Linked DNA regions of Homo sapiens: region 1 is linked to region 2. Evidence: fine-mapped expression QTL. A gene starts in region 2. The other region holds a variant in brackets. All regions are shown on one strand. Distances are from middle to middle.

Region 1 (11,306 bases), 83 kb before region 2:
CTTGTTGCCCAGGCTGGAGTGCATTGGCACAATCTCGGCTCACCAAAACCTCCGACTCCCAGGTTCAAGCGATTCTCCTGCCTCAGCCTCCTGAGTAGCTGGGATTACAGGCATGAACCACCATATCCGGCTAATTTTGTATTTTTAGTAGAGACGGGGTTTCTCCATGTTGGTCAGGCGGTTCTTGAACTCCCGACCTCAGGTGATCCGCCCACCTGGGCCTCCCAAACTGCTGGGATTACAGGTGTGAACCACCACGCCCAGCCCATTTTCATTTATTTATTTTTGAGACAAGGTCTCTCGTTCTGTTGCCCAGGCTGGAGTGCAGTGGTGCAATCATGGCTCACTGCAGCTGTGGCCTCCTGGGCTCAAGTGATCCTCCTGCCTCAGCCTACTGAGCAGCTGGGACTACAGGTGTGTGCCACCACATCCAGCTAATTTTTAAGTTTTTCTGTAGAGACCAAGTCTTGCTGTTTCTTGCCTAAGCTGGTCTTGAACTCCTGGCCTCAAGAGATCCTCCTGCCTCAGCCTCTCAAAGTGCTAGGATTGTAGGTGTGAGCCACTACGTCCTAGCTTATCACACATTTTAGAATATCTATAAAATCAGTTCCTCCTTATTCATGCTAAACTTTTACATGTGTGAATCCTTGAATCAATTAATCCTCTTTTTGGTTTACAGCAATTACACTGAATAGAATCACTTTCCTCTCACAACTACACTCAGAAGTTTTCTTCTTTTATCACTGACCTGGCTTTGGTATCTTGACTATCTCTTCTATAATGGCAGTCTCAACTCAAGAAACTGGTTTGGACCACCTATCTTTTTTTTTTTTTTTTGAGATGAAGTCTTACTCTGTCACCCAGGCTGGAGTGCAATGGCGCAATCTCGGCTCACTGTAACCTCCGCCTCCCGGGTTCAAGTGATTCTCCTGCCTCAGCCTACTGAGTAGCTAGAATTATAGGCAGGTACCACCACCACGCCCGGCTAATTTTTGTATTTTTAGTAGAGACGGGGTTTCACCATGTTGGTCAGGCTGGTCTCGAACTCCTGACCTCGTGATCCACCTGCCTCGGCCTCCCAAAGTGCTGGGATTACAGGCGTGAGCCACCGCGCCCAGCCTGGACCACTTATCTTTTATGATTATTATACCACAGATCCCTTCCATTAGCATGGATAACTGAATGCCGACTATGAGGCATGGTCATAAAATAAACAGACTGATTTGACAGTTACTTTGTAATGAAAACATGAGTCAATATATGGTTACTAAAATAATCAGCATGTTGCTAAAAATAAGTTGTTTGATGCTAGGATATCCATTTCTATACAGATTTGACTTTTACTTGTAAATATTATAGTGTGCAAATTTTATTTTTCATTCAAGAGAGAAAAGTGATCCTGCTTAATTATTAAATATTAAATTACAATTTAATCATGCCCAGTACAGAATGACAGTGGGAATTTAGTCATTCAAATATCTGCCAATATCATTAGATCTAACACTGATAACTTTTGGTAAGCTTTTAACGTCCGCTTACTATAGCTGAATAAAAATAAAGACCCTGTTTTTAAAACTAGCATAATCAAAAAATAAATTCTTTGTGGTATAATTGCCTATAGTCTATAAATTTTATTACTTCTCAGGTCTCTGTGACATTAATAGTGAATGTTTTCTTATTTTTCAGGGCTTAATCTATTTTCATGTCTTGGAAATGAAGATACATTTCTCTCTTAAAAAAAAAAAAAAAAAAAAAAAAAAAGCCGGCTGGGCGCTGTGGCTCATGCCTGTAATCCCAGCACTTTGGGAGGCCAAGGACGGCAGATCACAAGGTCAGGAGATCGAGACCATCCTGGCTAACACGGTGAAAACCCATCTCTACTAAAAATACAAAAAAATAGCCGGAGTGGTGGCGGGCGCCTGTAGTCCCAGCTACTCCGGAGGCTGAGGCAGAAGAATGGCGTGAACTTGGGAGGCGGACCTTGCAGTGAGCCGAGATTGCACCACTGCACTCCAGCCTCGGCAACAGAGTGAGACTCTGTCTCAAACAAAACAAAACAACAACAAAAAAAAAGCCAAAGAAATTCTTAACAGCATGTAGTCTCCAATTCAAATAGAAAATACTATAGAAAATGCTAACTTGAGTGGACCAGTTTTAATCAGCGCCAAATAATTCTAGTATAGAACTAACTTTAGAGAAAGTAAAGTATGTAAACAAAATAGTTCCTTTTGTACCATAACAACTTTTCTATTTTGAGAGCAGGTATCTAATTCGGTAGCTTCACTTATTTTAACGATAGCAATGAAACAGGTAGTAAAGTAACAGATGTCACAAAATCCATGCATTTAAGCATAATCCACTTCCTCAAGTCTTCACTTTGAGTTTATTTATTCTTACTTTACACAGAAGTCTAATAAACTTAGTTTGTCTGGTCTCCAAAATGAAAGCAGATCAGAAGGCACATTATGAAGGTGGAGAAGGGCTACTGCTACAGGCACACTTAAGCAAGCAGTAATAGAAATGGAAGAATCAGAACGACTGTTAAAGACATGAAAACTAAAACGAGTACAGCAGAATGGAGCCATTTAGTACAGGGACAAACAGCTCTCAATGTCTGATTAGTCTATCAGATTATAATAAGTGATGTTAATGCTGATCATTTTGATACCAAACAAATTAAAATACATTCATATATTATTTAAGACAGTAATGCATATCAATTTTATGAAGATTTCCTTCAGAGATTATTCCAAAAAATTTTAGGGCTGAAAGAGGTTCAAGCTCTGCAGGAAACTGGGATATCTAGAATGACTCATTCCCCAAATATTCAAGTTACCCAGTTCTTACTAAATTAGCCATCTTTAGTCTCATAACAATATTTCTAGAACATAAGTCTTGATGAACAGAGTTGAAGTTACATTTATAGTGCCATAAGTTTTAAATCTGTGTACTGTACTAAGAACAATTAATGATAACAATACGTTTAACATTTTTCTGAAATATACACAATTATTTATTCAAAAATGATAGTCAAATTTCTCTTATAGTTGAATTCATTAATGGAAGTCCTAGAAACATCATTATATAAAAACTGAATTAGAACTTCAAATATATGGCAATCACATATTCAACCAAGTATTTGTTTTAGCAAGTTTTTAGTAAAGAACTAAGAGGCAAACAAAACAATGCTAAGCAGTCAAGCAGGTATCACAAAGTCCATGCACTTTACTGACAGAAAAGCCCCTTAGCTCTCTTTCAGTCTACTTACTCTTATTTTAGACACAATTCTAGCAAGCTTGGCAATCTGGTTTCTCAGTCCACAGCAGATTAGAAGCAGCAAATTAGGGACCTATTGCAGGAGGCAGGCACACAAGACGGCGGCAAAAGTGACAGCTGATTATAAGGGAAGATAGAGAAACTGTGAAAAACAGACATAACTGAAAAAAGCACACCAGTGTGAGGTCATGTTGTAAAGGGGTACCTGACATATATCTCAGTAGCCCCTGAGGATGAGTTTCTGTTTATCACCCCATGATAGAAACTGATATTCCTAAAGATGACAGAAAAAGTTAAATTATATTCTATATACTCTAGACAAAGTAGAGAAGTAGTGCATTTAGTTATTAAATTATTAAAATGGATTTGTTTTAGTTAGCTGAGAAGTTAACTTAGGCAAATTAATCACCTGTCTATGATGACAGATAAATGGTTACTGCATTTTTTTTCTATATTTTCTCTTCTAAAATATTTGTAGCTTTATTTTCTAATTGTGAACTGCATAACTATTTTCTTGTAAGTAGAATTGGAAAAATAAACCAACCTTTATGCCTTGTCTGGTTGTCATTCTTAGCATAATATCTACTTTAGTTCAAACAATGATTTAGCTGAGCTATAATACACTCTTATAGTATTTAGTCTGTTTCTTTGTTTGTTTTGGGTATAGGAACAATATACTATGATTAAACCAAATCAGTTGAACTTTTTCATATTTTACATTACTGATAGGAAGTGAAGAGTTAGTCACCAGAGTGAAATGATCTGTAAACACTCCACTGACTTACAATTTTGTGGAATGTATCAGGACTTGATTTTTTTAATGCTTTAACACTAAAAGCTTTATAACTTTTCTTACGTAAATCAGAATATTACTATTAAGAAAATTGAGTTTTAAATGGACTTTCCTACCTGGAGGTAGACAAAGGGTACAAATTCTGTCTTCAAGAGTGACCTAAATAGACTCTCACATGCATTCTTCCATTAAGTACTAGGTTTGTCCTGGTAAAACAAACTACAGAAATATCTGTATTAAAAACTGTCAGGATGATACTCCTAACAAGAATCATACTGTTAAAAATCATATTGTAAAACTTAAAAAGCACAATTATAAGTTTTCCCTGCAGTGTTTTATTTTTTTCCCCAGAGGGCTTCTTCTGTATATAGGGTAGCAGCTTTTTTTTTGAGACGGAGTCTCGCTCTGTCGCCCAGGCTGGAGTGCAGTGGCACGATCTCGGCTCACTGCAAGCTCTGCCTCCCAGGTTCACGCCATTCTCCTGCCTCAGCCTCCCGAGTAGCTGGGACTATAGGCACCCACCACCATGCCCAGCTAATTTTTTGTATTTTTAGTAGAGACGGGGTTTCACCATGTTGCCCAGGCTGGTTTCGAACTCCTGAGCTTAGGCAATCTGCCTGCCTCGGCCTCCCAAAGTGCTGGGATTACAGGCGTGAGCCACCGCACCTGGCCAGGGTGGCAGCTTTGAAAGCTAGCCAAAAGCCTGCTAAGGGAAGTAAAATATTCTTAGAAAAGTAACAAACAAGAAAACCTACTCATATTACATTGGCCTGTTTTTTAATACTTCCTAAGGTATTCATGGCAAGAAGAGCAAAGTTCCAGACAGAGGTTCCTAGATTTTATTGGACATAAACATTACCTATGGCTCATTCCAAAAAGACCAACTAAGAATCACTGGGAGTATGGTCTAAAATTTGCATTTTAAAAATAAGACTTTATTTATTTTGATGTAGTTACCCCACTAATACAACTGAGAACCACTGACTTCAAATATTATGAGAGAAAATTACTCCAGGAATTTTTGCAGAGAAGATAATACTTTATCTTGAAAATATTTTAAATATTTTAAAAGATGGAAACTACACAAAAGAACAAATACTCAAATAAAGCTGCAAGATCTTTATGTCATAATTTCAACAAGTAGAGTTTTCACTGGATTATGTAACAAGTAGTGAATTAAATAGATCAGACTGAAAGACTGGAAATTCTCGATTAAAATTATTTAGTCTTTCAAAATTAAAAGGTATCACCTTAGAGAACACTGAATAAAACTGATACAATTTTATGAAGATTTTCCCCCAAACTGGTGTAATAAAAGTAACATACAATAAAAGAATTAAAAATTATTAAACTCTAATTCTTCCTGTGTAAGGTTATAGGTTGAGAGAGATTACCAAGTTTTTCCATAATTGCTTCTTCTAAATCCAAAGAAAAATGAAGTCGGTAAACTAAATAAGTGATTTAAATAAGAAAGTAAACCCTAAGTATTATTGAATAATTTAACAGTTATAACACACAAAGATTTTTAAAATTGAAATTTAGCTATTTCTAAGTAGTAAAGCAAGGCCCAACCTAAGGTATTGCTCCGAAGAGGTTAATTATAGATGAGTTCCAGGATTTTGGCAAAAAGGCAAAATCACTTATAGTACAATAATCTCTACTGTTTATATAAAGCAGAACCAAGTTTTTTTCTCAGGTTAAAAAGTAAATTTCCTTAGATTCCTGAAAGAAAAAAAATCCCCTTTGGTATAAGTAAATTTACTCACTGAAAGTGATAAGTTACAGGAATTTGAATGTGTTTCTTTACTCTAAAGACAATCTAGATTCATCATGCAATTTCCTTTCTAGGACAGCAACATAGATTGAGTTATTACTACATTTCCCCCAAATAATGTCTATAGAACTATGTTATTGCATAGGAGCTACAGGTTTCAAAACTGTATATGCTGAAAATAATTACTCTTTGAAAATGCAATCACAACACAAAACAGGTAAGATTGGCCAATTTGAAAAGCAGTCTCTGTTAAGAGGTAGTTTGTAAATGAAATACTAAGGAGACAAGGATGCTTTCCAGGAGGCTGACAGGATGTTTCCTGAATCTCATTATGGTGGACAGGGCTAGAAAACAGCAGGATTGTGACCTGTTTGTGTTAATGGCACCCAATTATCCAAGGTAAAGTGATACAAGGAACGTTTTTCTGCTTGCTAAATTGGGGGTGGGGCCTTGGAGTACAGAAATCCCACTTTGACATCATCACTTTCAATTGCAAAAAGAAAGGTGAAAGTGTAATTCTAAAAAATGGTACAATATTTTTCTTTTAAAGATCACTAGGACATCTTAAAATTAACTACTAAATACACACATGAACAAAGAAACATAAGAAATGTCATAACCCACGCACTGTTGAAACTACTTTTAGTTCCAAACCCCAGCACACATCAATTGTATCAATTAATTTTTTTATTCAGAACCTGGATCTTTAAGACTGGTATAAACAAAAATAAAATACAAACAACTTGTTATTAACATAATAGCTGCAGTTATTAACTGCAAGAATACAGTAAAAAGGAGTCATACTAAATGTTAATGTTCTTGCAACAGAATTTTCCCAATCACCTTAAGGTAGCAAATTCTGGCAAGAAATGATAATTCATTTCTTATTAAAAATACTTAAAGAATTTCCAAGATTGATCAGTTGTGCCACAAATAAAACAGCAGTTTATTCAAAAGAGCCCTTACCTTTCTCTTATTTTCCTAAAAGATCTGCCATTTACAGGTAACTACTAATTTCAGATCAGTTATTCAAACCAGGGTTCTTCCTGTAAATCCACATCTTAGCTTTA[T/C]ATATAGTAAACTTACACTCATATTCCCTTTCCAGTCTTGAAGCTAAACACTTTTGTAAAAGGAACAATCTAATATCACTTCATATGAATCTTGGTTCTTACTTTTCTTCTATCTCATTTTTATTTTCTTCTATTATTTGTTCTTCCTCCTCACCACCAAAAGTCTGTTCCTGCATGGTGGTAAAGGAGAGAGATCTAGCAGCCACTTCTGCAGCAAGGCCAGCAGTGAAGGTAAAATCTGGTGACAGCTGTAGCCGTGCCAGCCTCTGCTTAATGGAGGGCTGTAATGAGTCCCTGGGAGTTGGAGGGGCAGTGGTCAGACCACTTCCATCTGCTTGTGGTTCATCTTCACTCTCACATTGGTAACACATTCTTTCTTCTGCTCCTTGGGGGAAGACTTCATTTGAAGAATTATCTTTATTTTTACCTTCTAGAGAGTTTTCACATAAATACTCAGTCCTACTTATTTCATTGTCTGTTGTGGCGGATTTATTACTTTCCTCTTCAGTATCATTTTTACTGACTTTTCCCATATCTGAATTCATTGATGGTTCTGAATTACTTATGGGTTCCACTGGGTCTACAGGAGACAAGGATTTCAACACGGCTTCAAATAAAAAAAAAGAAAAAAGAAAAAAAATAACTAAGGACCTAGCAATGATTTAAACTTTTAATTCAAACTCTCAGTTTTTTTCTTAAAAAGAACAATAAATAAATAAAAGCTAAATAAAACTTTCTAGTAAAATCAATGAAAATTTATAAATCCAGGAAACTTTATAAGAGAGAAAATGCCTAAGAAATGAAATGAGATAGGGATTTGATGAAGGTTTTTATGACACCTCACATATTATCTTATTTAAAATATTAAAGCAGTGGTTCTGAAAGTGTGTTCCCTGAACCAACATTATCAGTTATCACCTAGGAATTTGTTAAAAATGCAAATTCTTGGGCCTGATCCCAGACCTCCTGAAATGGAAACTCTGGGAGTAGGGACCAGCTATATTTTACAAGCCCTCATCTTGATTCTGATACACACTAAAGTTTGAGAACCATTGTATTAGGGAATAAGCAGCATGGTTTTCACTGATAATACATCAGATAAAAGGCTTAAAGTAATCTAGATAATAATAATATCTTCCATATGTATACATATATATTTACAAGTTAAAACAGCATGGAAAAAAATGCAACATACAATTTAACTTACTTGCCAACCACCTAACAAGACCCTAATGAAAGAAAAGCCATAACTTCTACACATTTTGTAGTACCACGAAAAATACAAATGAAGTCTGCATTCAAGATCAACTATTGTACAAAATATAATACATAAATATAATATATATTCATACGGTAGAAGTTGTCCTTGCAAGGAAAATGCAGTTTTATTTAGCCCCTCTTGATGTTAGTAGGCAGTGGGTTGCTTGCTAGGCAGTCGCTCATCCCAGCATGAGGGGTTAGTACAATACAATATAGTATGAAGCATGACGGAAGGAAAAAAGTGCTTCTCGAAGAGCTGGCGTGTATTTAAAAAACGTTTTTGTAAAATGTGTCCACTTCCAGGAACCATCCCTAAGCTGCAGTAACTCCACTAGAGAAGCAGCAACAACAGAAAAAAAATGGCCACAGCAGGTTCCAGTGCAGACTTTCCCCCTCTAATTCCATGCGGACTTTACCCCTGTAGGCAGAGATGAAAACAGCTCTGGAAGATGTACTGAAATTTTTCATGGGAAAAGCATTCTATGGTATCAGCAGCTTTTTACTTATTTTCACAAACTAAAACAGCATTATGACCCTTTCCAATGTAAACTATATCAAAAGCACATACCTGAAAAAGAGACACATTTCTCTCATTGATAAATCTTTCCCATAATGTCAATAGCATAATTTTAAAGCTATATGAAGAAACACTAAACAATAAAAAAGGATATAAGTTTATATACAATGCTATTTTCAATATATGTACATTCTTAGTTTATAAATCTGTTAGCTCTTAAAGGAAGCAACATATATTAGAAGTTGGTTGATAGTTCACAATTATTACTAATTAAATGGGGTGGATATAATCTGAGTAATGAGAGGATCAATTGACGAGTGTGTTAGAATTTAAGCCTTGAGGCAGGTAGGAGGCTTTACATTTTGTCTCTTGATCTTTGCGCTAGGGATACAGCAGTAAACAGTGCCTGACATATAACAAGTACCTAATAACTACTTGTTGAATGAGTAATTTGCTGAATGAATGCTGTGGGATAATAAGGCCCCTATTTAAGAAGACTGTAATTTTGTTACAGAGACAAACAAAACAAAACAAAACAAAACCCTGAACATATAGAAAACAACAGTGCCTAAAATTAATCTCTGATGTATGTAGGCCCAGTATATGAATGAACAGATTGCAGGAAATCAATCTGTTAATCATTTCCCTTCTCTGCTATATGCTTTGGGGTTCAAGACTTCCTTTATATTTTATCACAATGTTCCTCTAGTGTGAGGGTCTGTAGTGTTAGGAGAGGCGGCAGAGCTGGAGCACTCAGAGAAGGATTCATGGAGAAGGAGAGACTAGTAGAGAGGACAGCTTGGTGGAGAAGGCAGAATTCTTGGTAAAGGGGTAAGCATGAATTATTATTATTATTATTATTATTATTATTTTTTGAGAGAGAGTCTCACTCTGTCACCCAGGCTGGAGTGCAGTGGTGCGATGTCGGCTCACTGCAACCTCCACCTCCCAGGTTCAAGCGATTCTCCTGCCTCAGCCTCCAGAGCAGCTGGGATTATAGGTGTGCGCCATCACACCTGGCTAATTTTTGTATTTTTAGTAGAGAGGGGGTTTCGCCATGTTGGCCAGGCTGGTCTTGAACTCCTGACCTCAAGTGATCCACCTGCCTTGGCCTCCCAAAGTGTTGGAATTAGAGGCGTGAGCCACTGTGCTTGGCCAGCATGAATTTTTTTCATGAATAAAAATAACACATTTGTGAACTGTAGTTTAATTCGATAAACATAAGAAGATATCTATAGTAAAAACAGTAGAAAATATAATTGGATAGATGAATTCTTATGATGAAGAGACTTGAAAACAGGAAAAAGAGTTTAGATTCAACACAATAAGAAAGGGAGAAACCACTATAGGTTTTAAGATAGAGAGCCATCATCAATGCAGTGTTGGAGAAAAATCTGCAAAGAGTTTGCAAGATAGCTTAGAAGAAAAAAGTACTGAAAATGGAAGTCAGCTAAGAAGGTATTTTAATGTACAAGGATAATCTACTGAGGACCTGGGCTATAAAGGGGGCCAATGGGAAGAAAGAGGAATGATAAAACCAAGAAATGCAGATCTGGACAGGAGAAAACATAGGGCTCCTGAGGGGAAAAAAAAAAAGAGAACTGGAGGAACTTTCCAGAAGTATAGGTAATCTATGTACTTCTAGTGAGGAGGGAAAAGCAGGGCAGTTGATTTCGAGGGTCCACACAGATACTGTAAAATGGAAGAGAATCCACACTCTACCTACTTAGAAATCCATAGGCATTAATTCAACTAAGAATTAGCTAGGTTGATACTGTCAAGTATTAAGCTTCCCCTGATTCCTTCCCTGTCTCCCATGAAGTTTGACTTAAGAAAAGAAGGGTGAGAAACAGAAAGGAATGTAAGGCTTTTGTATTACCAGCTACCCCACTCTGCTGAAATCAGAGTATGGGGAGTACGCCCACAGGCACCCTGCTCCCCTCCCATCTACTAAAGTGCTCAAACCACTTAAATAATGCTAATGATGTGGCTCACTGGTCTAGGTTTTAATTCCTTTTTTTTCTTTTCTTTTCTTTTCTTTCTTTTTTTCTTTTTGAGATGGAGTCTCCCTCTGTTGCCCAGGCTGGAGTGCAGTGGCGTGATCTTGGCTCACTGAAACCTCCGCCTCCCGGGTTCAAGTGATTCTCCTGCCTCAGCCTCTCGAGTAGCTGGGACTACAGGCACGCGCCACCATGCCTTGTTAATTTTTGTATTTTTAGTAGAGATGGGGTTTCGCCATGTTGGCCAGGCTGGTCTTGAACTCCTGACCTCAAATGATCCACCCGCCTCAGCTTCCCAACGTGCTGATATTACAAGCATGTGCCGCTGCGCCTGGGCCATTTTTTTCAATGTGAGCACAGTTATTAATTTTGTGCTTCACTGAGGTATTTTTAAATATTTTAACATATGGACAACAGAGTTGAGAATCTCAAATTCACTAAATTTGAAAATAACATTTAAAATATCCCAAATTATTCAACTCACTGCCCATTCTAAAACAAATTTACTAAAAAATTAAATAACTCATAAAAAAGTATGACTTCATATTTCCAATGTGGTTACATTCCTACTCTTTTATTAATCAAATTGATTTAGCATCTAGAAGAAAAAGTACTA
Region 2 (11,306 bases):
GCTCCTAGCCTTTCCCAAGAAGAATCCCGTGATAAGAGTTACAGGTTAGCTGGACATGGTGGCACCTGCCTGTAGTCCCAGCTACTTGAGAGGCTGAAGTGGTAGGATCACCTGAGCCAGGAGTTGGAGGCTGCAGTGAGTTATGATGGTTAACACTGCATTCCAGCCTAGGCAACAGTGCAAGACCCTGTCAAAAAAAAAAAAAAAGTTGTGGCTTTAGGTACAGGAATGCAATCACTAACAAATAGTAGCCGTAGAGGGAAAGAATTCAGACAAGAAACACCCAAACCTCTCTGGCGCTCTTTCCTCCATCCTCTGATCTGCAGGTCCTTCCCACTGGCCGAACCTAAATGGAACCCAGAGGACAAGGGAATGCAGTGATGCAGTCCATAATGATCAGGGTGGAATTATGGGTCTGAGGGACACAGGGAGAAAAATAATCACCAATGATAACATCAATCCCTCAACTATATACTTGGGTATTAAATAAGAAATAAAAATGGAACTTATACAACCATGAGACAAACTACATTTCAAAACTTTCGTGATACAACTGAAGCAATACTCAGGGAAATTTATAGCCTTACAAGTTATTTTGGGCATTTAGGTTTTTAACTCAAGAAGCTAAAAAAAACAGAACAAAAATAGCAAAATAAACACAAATAGATGAATGGAAATAGATAAAAGTAGAAATTTTAAAAAAATTTAAAACCACAAACAAATTCAATAGAACTGACCAAACAAAACCAACTAGTTTTTTGAAAAGTCTACCTGAGGCCAGGCACGGTGGCTCACATCTGTAATCCCAGCACTTTGGTAGGCCGAGGTGGGTGGATCACCCGAGGTCAGGAGTTCAAGACCAGCCTGGCCAACATGGTGAAACCCCATCTCTACTAGAAATACAAAAATTAGCTGGGCATGGTGATGGGTGCCTGTAATCCCAGCTACTCGGGAGGCTGAGGCAGGAGAATTGCTTGAACCCAGGAGGCAGAGGTTGCAGCAAGCCAAGATCCTGCCATTGCACTCCAGCCTGGGCGACAAGGCTAACAGAGTGGAACTCTGTCTCAAAAAAAAGAAAAGTCTATCTGGTAAGTTGAAACTCCAGCACATCTATGCAAAACAAAAAGAAAAACATAACAACAATCAGATCTAATTTGTGCTATAAATGAAACTAAAGAGACTACTAAGAATATATCAATAATTTTGAAAACCTAGATAAAAAGCAATTTGTTGGAAAAATTTAATAAAAGGTAACATTTACTGAGTGTTTACAATGTGTCAGGTACTCATCTAAGTAATTCACTTATATTAAATCATTTAGTACTCATAACTACCTTACGAGATAGTTACTGTTATTTTTATTTAATATGGAGAAAACTGAAGCTTAGACAAGTTAAGTAACCTGCTCAAAGTCACATTAACTAATATAACTAATAAATAGCTGACCTAGGATTTCTTAGGTTATCCAGCTCCAGAGCCCATATCTTTAACTATATTACACTGCCTTTCAGAATAAAAAAGTTATCAAAATAGAAAATTGTACCTGAGCAATAACCATAAAAGAAATTGAGCTGATAGACAACATTCAGTCTCTTTTCCCCAGGAAAGGCCAATTTAGCTATACTCTGAAGAAACAGATAATTCTCATTTTGTAAAATCAGTCCTAGAGCACAGAACGAGATGAGAAGTTGCTTGATTCATTTAGAAGGCAAGCAATAAATGTTCACGGATTGGAAGATTCAATATTGATTGTAAAGATGTTAAGTTTCCCCAGATTAATTTATAGCTTCAAAGCAATTTCAATCAAAGTCTCAGTAGGGTTTTTTTATTTTTATTTTTTATTTTTTTACAAAAACTGACAGGCTGATTCTAAAATTTATATGGAAATATAATGGGCCAAGAATAGCCAAAGGCAATCCTGAAGAAAAATACAGCTGAAGGGTCTTATGCTATCAGATATTAAAACCTATTTTTTAAATTATAGTAATTAAAATAATGTGGTATTAACACACGAATAGACAAAATGATCAATGGCAAAGAAGACAGTGTCCAGAAAGAGATCTACACATAAAAGATTCCCTGATTTATGACAAAGGCAACACTACAGTTCAGTGGGGAAAAAATGATCTGTTCAGTAAATGGTGCCAGGTCAACTGGACATCCATACGGGGAAAAAAAAATGTTGATCTTCACTTGTTACCATACAAAAATCAGTACCAGATGGATGACAGATCTAAATGGGAAAATGTCAAATAAAGCTTTTAAAGAAAATATCTTTGTGACCTTAGAGTAGGCAAATATTTTTTTAACAGCACTAATCACAAAAGAATAAGGTTTAATTGGATTATAATAAGGAGCTTCTGTTCATTGAAAGACACGATTAAAAGAGTGCAGAGGCCACATATAGCCCAAGGTAAGATATATGAGGTATATACAGTTGTCTCTTTATTCATGGGGAATTGGTCACAGGACTAGGGCAAATACCCAGTCCATGGATGCTCAAGTCCCTTATATAAAATGGCATAGTATTTGCATATAACATACACACAGTCTCCCACATATTTTAAATCATCTCTAGATTATTTGTAATACCTAATACAATGTGAACACTATGTAAATAGTTGTTATCCTGTATAGTTTTTTTATTTGTATTATTTTTTGAATATTTTTGAGTATTTATTTATTTATTTAGAGATATGGTCTCACTCTGTCACCCAGGCTGGAATTGTAGCTCACTGCAGCCTCAAATTCCTGGGCTCAAGCAATCTTCTGCCTCAGGCTGTGGAGTAGCTGGCATTACAGACATGCATCACCACACCTGGTTAATTTTTTTCTTTTTTTTTTTTAATATGCAGGGTTTTGTTAATGTTGACCAGGCTGGTCTTAAACTCCTGGCTTCAAGCAATATTCCTACCTTAGCCTCCCAAAGTGCTGGGATTACAGGCATGAGCCACCTCACTGGGCCAGAGTATTTCCTTTATTTTTTTTTTTTGAGATGGAATCTTACTCTGTCACCCAGAGCAACCTCCGCCTCCTGGGTTCAAGCGATTCTCATGCCTCAGCCTCTGGAGTAGCTGGGACTACAGGTGCATGCCACCATGCCCAGCTAGTTTTTGTATTTTTTAGTAGAGACTGGGTTTCGCCATGTTGGCCAGGCTGGTCTCAAACTCCTAGCCTCAAGTGATCTGCCTGGCTTAGCTTTCCAAAGTGCTAGGATTATAGGCGTGAGCCACGGTTGGTCCAATCTGCAGATGTGGAACTCTCAGCTAAGGAGGGCCAACTGCATCTCTAACAAAGGACTTGTATCCAGTGTATGTAAATAATTCCTTCAAATCAGCAAGAAAAAGAAACAACCCAATAGAAAAATATGCAAGAAATTTGACGTGGCTTCACAAAATGGATATACAATTGGCTAATAAACACATTAAAAATCTTAACATCTTTATCAAGAAAATACAAATTAAAACCACAAGGAGATACCAGGACATAGCCCCTAGAATCATAAAAAGAAAAACACTAAAATTAGCAAGGGTTGATGAGGATGTGGGGCAATGGGACCTCTCATACATTCCTGGCTGGAGAATAAACTGGTACAACCACTTTGGAATAAAGTTTGGCAATATCTACAGAAATATCTAGGTATTTGCTATGACCCAGCAATTCCATTCCTACATATATATCCACCAGAAATATGTTTAACCAAACACATACAAAAAGGTTCACAGTAGCACTAGTTTAAACCTGGGAACTACTCAATGACCATTAATAGAAGAATGAATTTAAAAATGATCATATATTCACATGGAATACTATGCCAAAATAAAAATTCTCATGTTAACAATATGGACGAATCTCACAAATAAAGCCAGAGAGGAAAAAAAAAAGTCAGAAATAAGAGAGTATATAAATGGAAATGCACAGTGTCTAAACAATAAAAATAGACAAAATTAATCTAGGTTATTATGTTTAAATAGTGATCATTTTGGGGTAGGGAGTAGTGATGGAAAGGACCAGGAGGGAGCTTCTGGTGTGCTGGTGATGTTGTTTCTTTTTTCATTTTTTATTTTTTTGGGGCAGAGTCTGGCTCTGTCATCCAGGCTGGAGTACAGCGGTGCGATCATGGCTCACTGCAGCCTTGACCTACCCAGGCTCAAGTGATTCTCCCACCTCAGCCTCCCGAGTAGCTGGGACTATAGGCATGTGCCACCACGCCCAAATAATTTTTGTCTTTTTTGTAGAGATAGGGTTTCACCATGTTGTCCAGGCTAATCTCAAACTCCTGGGTTCAAGGGATCCATCTGCCTCAGCCTCCCAAAGTGCTGAGATTACAGGTGTGAGCCACCATGCCCCATCTGTCCCGTTTCTTGATCTGGGTGCTGGTTACATGGGTGTGCTCAACATGTGAAAATATAACCATCCACACACTTGTGATCTGTGCCCTGTCCTTATGTAAATTATACTGCAATAAAAATTGTGTATATCAAAGAGCAAACAAACAGCAAACTGGAAATTTTTCTGCAAGTATGACAAAGGCTTAGTAATATATGAAGAACTCACGCAAGTCAATTTTTTTAAAGCTAGCATCTAATAAGAAAATGAGCAACAAATATGAAGAGAAATGTTCAAAGAAATAAAAATAGCTAATAAATGTATAAATGCATAAAATGTAAATTAAAACAATGGAATGTTATTTTTGCCTATCAAATTAGCAAAGATTAAAGGAAACTGTTAAGGCTGTTGTTGAGGATTTGGTGAAACCAATACTCTCTTATTCTTAATGGAAACCGGAATTGGTATAACCTTTCTGCGTAAGTCTTAAATGTTCATATTCTTTCACCCACTAGTTCTACTTCTAAAAATTATTCTGAGGAAAATCAGAGTTGTAGTTAAAAATAGGCTTATATCACTGTTGATTACAATGGTATTTTTTTAAAAAAAGGTTATATTATGATACACGTGAGGGGATATTATAATATTAATGTTTTCAGAGAATGATGAATGGGAAAAGATTCACGATAAAGTCAAGTGAAAAATATATACAAAATTCTACGTGGTATACCTTTTGTTTTAAAAAATATCACACACACATTGTGTCTTAATATAGAGGCTAAAAAATTACACACACATAAACACACATTTACATAGAAATAAAGTCTATAAGAACACATACCGTACTGTTAATAGTTACCATCTTTGGGTGGTGGGATAATGGATGATTTTAACTTGGGGGCTTATTTTCTACAATAAAATGTTCCTTGAGCATATATTACTATTATATTCAGAAATCAAAAATAATGGGTAAAAAAAATACACCCATCAGTTACCCTTACTCTAGAAAATATTTCTCTCTCCTTCAGCTACCACATTCAATCTATAAACATTGCCTCGATTTTAACTTACAAGTGTCTGTCCAAGCCATTATTCCATTACGTCTCTCATTTCATCTCAGGCCCTTGTCTTCCCTAATGAACGCCTCATATCTAGACTCTTCACTTCGGTAAAATGGCCACATTTTCCACTGCTTCTTCATTGCAGCCACATCAAGCCACTTTACATAGCCACCCTCCACACCCCGCCCCCTAAAAATGCACACCAGGTACTTTCACACTTCCCAAGCTTGGCATAATCAGTTCTCTTTCCCTGTAATACATTTTCTCCTGCCGGTTTTTCTAATCCAATTCATAGTTAAAGATTCACCTCGGATATCGCGTACTGGGTGTAGCCTCTGGGAGGCCGCAAGAACAGAAATTAATCCTTCAATGACAGTTTGTACATATTTCAACATTTAGCATTCTGTCCTGTCTGTGCCTCGCTCTCTCGCTGTATGGCATGGGCCACTTCATTTTTAAATTTTCTTAAAATCTAGTTGGATAAATGAAAGTAAAGCGTATACATGCAATACACATACGTACAGGGGTGCGAGTTTTGACCTGTGTCTGATGGAAAAAAATGGCATCAAAAACACTCGCCCGATTTTTTTCATTCAAGATGGCAGAGAACGTCTTAAAATAGTCCCACACAAAAGCACTCACATCTAGAGCCCCGAGTCAGAAGAACTGGCTACACCTAGCGCAACAGCAAAGGACAAAAGAATCGAATCTAGATGCTGAGATGCCCTGGCCCTAACTACCCACAGTAGGTCCCACAAATAGACTTTAAACCGTGTTAGAAAACGGGCACCTGCTGCCTTCATTCCGAGGGCCACGCCTTGACGGTGAACAGTGACCTGAAGCACTCTGGATACTGACCCAAAAAAATCGCGGATGGAAAAGGAGGAGGCTAAGTTGTGACTATCTAAAAGGCACGATTCGGCCCCGCCCCAGCCGGGCGCAGTCCCCCCCGCCGCACATCCATTCCCAGGAAGGAAGAGACACCGCTCCAGCCCAGAGCCTGGCAACCGGGCACCGTCTGGGAATTCTGGGCGGGCCCGAGATAGAGGCCGGCCACGGCCAGGGCGCCTCTGGCTACACCTGTCAGGCGACGACGGACTCTAGGCCCTGAAATCGCTGGGGTTCGGTGGTCGAGGCCAGCTGGAGCGCGTCACCCGATCCCTCGCCCCGGGAACGCCTTGCTTCCTCGATTTCCGTCTCGTCCTTCTCAAACAAAGGCAATCCACACCCACCGCCATTTTCCTCTTACCTCAAAAACCACCTCTTCGTCAAACTCCGGTGTCATCCTTCTCCGCCATGCCACCCGCCTCAGCACGATGGGAAATGAAGGCGGGAGTACAGGCGGCACGGAGCTCCAGCTCCTGCCCGTCCCGTGGGTCCAGAAAACTACAATTCCCAATATGCCTCGCCGCTCACGCCCCCTTTTCGAGCCCGCTTATTGGAGAAGAGAGTGAGCGTGTAAGCGAGAGAGGCGGGAGCGAGCTGAAGCTCGAGCCCTCCGATTGGAGGAGGCTAGGGCTTTTGTCTGCCTTTTACGGCCGCGACTAGCAGGGGGCGCCCGGAGCACTGCTGATTTTTGGAGCCCGAGAAGGGCACGCGCCAGCGGAGCCGAAGAGAGCACTGCTCGTGCCCGCGCCTGGCTGTCAGCCTGCCGCTCTGCGGGGCGGTGCTAGTGCTCGCCCGCCCGACCCCGGCGGCTCGCGCCCGGGAGCGCCGCAGGGTCGCTAGAGTCGGCCGCGTCCTTTGTGTGGCGCTCAGGCTGCGCCGCGGGGCGGCGGGACGGAATGTGGGCGCTGCGGGGGCTTTTCTCTCCTACCCGAACTGTGGGAACAATGGACTGAAAGGGGAAGATGGATTGAGGGGCCGAGCGGGGAAGCGAGCTGCACCGGGGAATCATGACTTCTGCAGCCGGTAAGTGACGGCGCTCGCGCTGCCGCGGGAAAGTTTGTGGCGAGCGCTGCTAGGCTTGGGCTCGCGAGCAACTTTCTTCGCCGGGGTGGGCGAGTTGTGTGCCCCGTACCTTTGCCGAGCACCTCGGCAAGCGCGGAGCTAATGGGATTCGCTGCCGGCTTTCTCGTCTTTTCCTGCCCAGAGGGGCTGTTTGGAAACCCGGGATTTCTCGGGATCTCCCTTCCAAGGGGGACTGTGCTGGGGGCTCTGCACCAGGTGAAATGCGATGTGTGAAGGGCGTTCGCTCATCTCTCCAGCAGTGCGAGGACTTCGCCTTTGCATGTGAAAATAGTGTAGATTCCCAAGTTAATAGATCAGTTATTATAGGTAAAGGCAGTGTTCTCAGCGTGTTCAATTTGGCCACTAAGTGAGTCGCTTTCAACCTTGTATCTGCTGGTAAACCTTTTACCCATTTTAAAGAGGCGTAGACATTGTCATGTCCTGGTGGTTTTACCTCTGTTACCTGAGAAGCAGAGGAGTTGAGATTGTTGAGGTTTTTTTTTTTTTTTTTTTTTTGCTTGTCTGCACCCAATTACAATTATTTTGTTTGTTTCTACCTGATTAGGGTAAACAAAGCTTTATTTTCTGTCTGCCTCCCATAGTTCTTTCCCCTTCATCCAAATGACAAAGCCTCTATCTTTGTGTGGATTTTCAGCAATTCTAGACGTTGTGTTTCTGAACATTCTTAAGGAACAATTTCTGTTTTACAAAATAATTACCAAAGTGGTGTTACGTTCACTTCGTAAGTACATAGGTTAATTTTTAAACCAGAACTTATGTATTAAGTAGAGTGTTATGGGTTATTTTACGTTTTTGTCCACGTTGAAACTTTCATTAGAAATTTTATAGTGAAATAGTTTAAAGCTTCTTCTCAAGGTTACTTCCAGAATCAGCACTTAAGTATCAGATTAAATTTTCATTGCTTTTCTTGGCATTTGTTTAAAATTCTTGCAACTTGAAACTGTCCAACAGCACTCAAATGTTCTGATTTGTATTATTTCTAAAGCCTAGATATATTGTAGTGTTGCATTGCTCCCTGTGATCAGATTACAACAAACGAAACAAGAAGTTAGCCAATAGGAAAAGAAAGCAAGAAGTGGGTGTTGTGTGGGTCTTTCCTTTTTGATGTTATATGCACTTATATGAGATATCTTTATAAACTCTCTTTTCTTTGCCAAAGGGAGGCTTTATACTTACATAAGGTAAATTATTTTCATCCTACATTTCTGTGCCTTACCTTCGTTCAAGAAATTGATTTAAATTAAAAGTGGTTGGAAATTTTAAAATCCTTCCAGCCAGTTTTAGCTCTTTCCTTTTTGGAGGTGTCAAATGTATTTAAAATAACCGTGTCTTATATGTATCAGTTTTCAATTCCAGTCTTAACAGTTTATAAGGAACAGGCACAGAAGCATGTAATTTCACATTTATGTAAACCCAATTTCTAGGGCCCAGACTGGAAGTTCATGATTCTTGCATTTGAATTATCCTAAAATAATGCAAGCTATTTTTGTATTTTATCAACTTTACAATTAAAGAAATCCACAGAAATTTTTGTGGTGTTTAAAGTGGGACACTTCCTGTGTCTAGCCGAGTTGGTTGGTTTTTAGCATTGCTGGCTGAGAAGCATCAACTACTTTTTTGCTCACCCATCTGTTGGATTTATCATAATTCTTTCTGGTGTCTAGATGGGGAATATGGAAGAGAACTGGGGTTTTATTTCTACCCATTCTTATATGTATACATAGTTCTTACAAGCTGATTATGGTGCTTTTTGGGAACAATAGTCAAATTCATTGAAACGTTTAGGAAAGTTACTTGAAGTTAAGGGAGGGGATTTTTGCTTTTGAATCTAATCTGTGGTATTTGGAAGGGTTGGTTTAATTTAAGAAAATAAAAGGAATGTTGTAGAACATCTAGGTTATATGTATCCAGCAGAAAAGCTTGCTTTGTTTTTCTACATCTATAAAATAATCTGCCCTTAGTGGAGATTTCAGAATTATTTTAAGCTGTATATGAAAAAGGAGAGGCTGGGCGCAGTGGCTCAAGCCTGTAATTCCATCACTTTGGGAGGCCAAGGCGGGTGGATCACTTGAGGTCAGGAGTTTGAGACCAGCCTGGCCAACATGGCAAAACCCTGTCTCTACTAAAAATACAAAAATTAGCCAGGTGTGGTGGGGTGCGCCTGTAGTCCCAGCTATTCGGGAGGCTGATATGAAAATTGCTTGAGCCAGCGAGGCGGAGGTTGTGGTGAGCCGAGATCGAGCCACTGCACTCTAGCCTGGGTGACAGAGCAAGACTCCATCTCAAAAAAAAAAAAAAAAAAAGAAAAAAGGAGAGAGAATTATAGGTATATATAGGTATATATTTTGTGTCCTTTTGAACATGTACAGGTCACTGTCTTCATTGTCTGTGCTTTGCGTTTTGGCTGGTCCAGTAGCCAGAGAGTGTACACGTGAACCACAGCCATCTGTGTGTAACAGATGACGAGTATGTTTGTAATAGTTAGTAAAATGGTACTAGTGCTTTACTTTCTTACCTTATATTTCCCTGGAGCCAAACAGCTGTGTAAATAAAAGATTTGCTGCTTTGCTCTAAGAAGCTTTGGGTCTGACTGTTGATGCAGTATTAAGATCCAAAGGTGCTAGATTTATTGCCAAATGTCATGCACTTATTTCACATTGGAGTAGACCATAATATAATGGCTTATTATTTTTTGAGTTGTGTTTCTTCCAAAATAGAGCCATGAAAAAAAAATAATGAAGGATTTTGGATATTGCTCTACCAGTGACTTAGTTGAACACTTGTTCCTATTAATAATTAAGGAATTTTTCAATAATCGTATTGAAATTGATTCCTGCTAACTTTTCAAAATATTATTCTACATTAAAATGGATGTACATTTTTGAATGTGATTATTTTTAAAGAAGAAATTTTCTGTTATGGAGACATATTAAAGAGTATGTGTATGTGGCAGCTGTGATTATTCCCAGGCCCTGTTGTTAGCACTGGGATACATCAGTGAATGAGACAAAGTGCCTGCCCTTCTGGAGCTTGTGTCTTATGCTGAACACAGACAAAGGTGAACTGAAAAAACATCAACGCAGGAGACAGAGGCCACAGTACATGAGGTTCTTCTGAAATGAGTGTCTCAGAAGTTATCATCTCAGATTCCTATGGGCTTTAGAGGCCTGTTCAACTCCCCCATTTATAAGGAAGGAAAGTGAGGCAGCCAGGTCTGTACAAGGCCCACAATTAGGTTAGCCAGCTCCCTGAGTTATGTCTGTGACTTCCTTCAATACACAGTTAACTAACAATGGCAAGCCCAAGTTCACAGTTATTAATTGAATTCAGTGAGTATGCGTTGAGGGTTTTATGTACGTAATAGGACTTTGCTATATTTATTGGGAATCAACTCCAGCACATACGTAGTTAATTGAATTTCTGTGACACTAGAACAGGAATTTATATCTCTTGGAAGCAGATTTGTGTACAAAACGCATTTTTTAAAAAGAGTAAAATTGGTACCAGGGATTTTTTAAAAATGATATTTAAATGACCCTAAAGCTTCTGACAAGGTTCTAAGATACGGAAAGTAAAAGATTAATTTGATGAGAGATGAAGTTTTCTTCCAACTGTGGTAAAATAGCACATAAGATAAATTTACCGTCTTACTCATTTTTAAGTGTATAGTTCAGAAGTGTTAAGTACATTCACATGGTACATCCAATCTCAAGAACTCTTCATTTTACGAAACTATTTTTTTTGTTTTCATGGAGACGGAGTCTTACTGTGTTGCCCAGGCTGGTCTCCAATTCCTGAGCTCAAGCAATCCTCCCACCTTGCCCTCCCAAGGTGCTGGGATTACAGGCATGAGCCACTATGCCAGGCTGCCAAAACTAATTTTTAAAAAATTCTTTGAAAAATCCCAGAGGTAGGATGTTTTGATAATGGTTACAGAAATAAAAT

Evidence for each region. PIP is the estimated chance that this variant, and not a neighbour inherited with it, causes the effect.
Region 1: its variant is fine-mapped to the expression of VEZT in tibial artery (GTEx, PIP above 0.99). The same link has a PIP of 0.9 or more in atrial appendage.

Annotation. Positions count from the first base shown.
Region 1 is chr12:95,296,379-95,307,684 of GRCh38, reverse strand. VEZT (vezatin, adherens junctions transmembrane protein) reads right to left here. Exons shown (of 12, transcript NM_017599.4): 12 at 4,886-7,520. The coding sequence ends at 7,012. Among named protein-coding and RNA genes, the nearest start is that of MIR331, 6.4 kb to the left of the region's middle. The variant T/C (reference allele first, on the strand shown) is at 6,914.
Region 2 is chr12:95,213,220-95,224,525 of GRCh38, reverse strand. It overlaps VEZT (vezatin, adherens junctions transmembrane protein), which reads right to left and starts at 6,719. Exons shown (of 12, transcript NM_017599.4): 1 at 6,640-6,719. The coding sequence starts at 6,675. It overlaps FGD6 (FYVE, RhoGEF and PH domain containing 6), which reads left to right and starts at 7,059. Exons shown (of 21, transcript NM_018351.4): 1 at 7,059-7,301. The coding sequence starts at 7,286. RefSeq lists enhancers at 5,851-5,900, 6,501-6,740, 6,205-6,800, 6,801-7,395, 10,477-10,556 and a silencer at 6,971-7,200.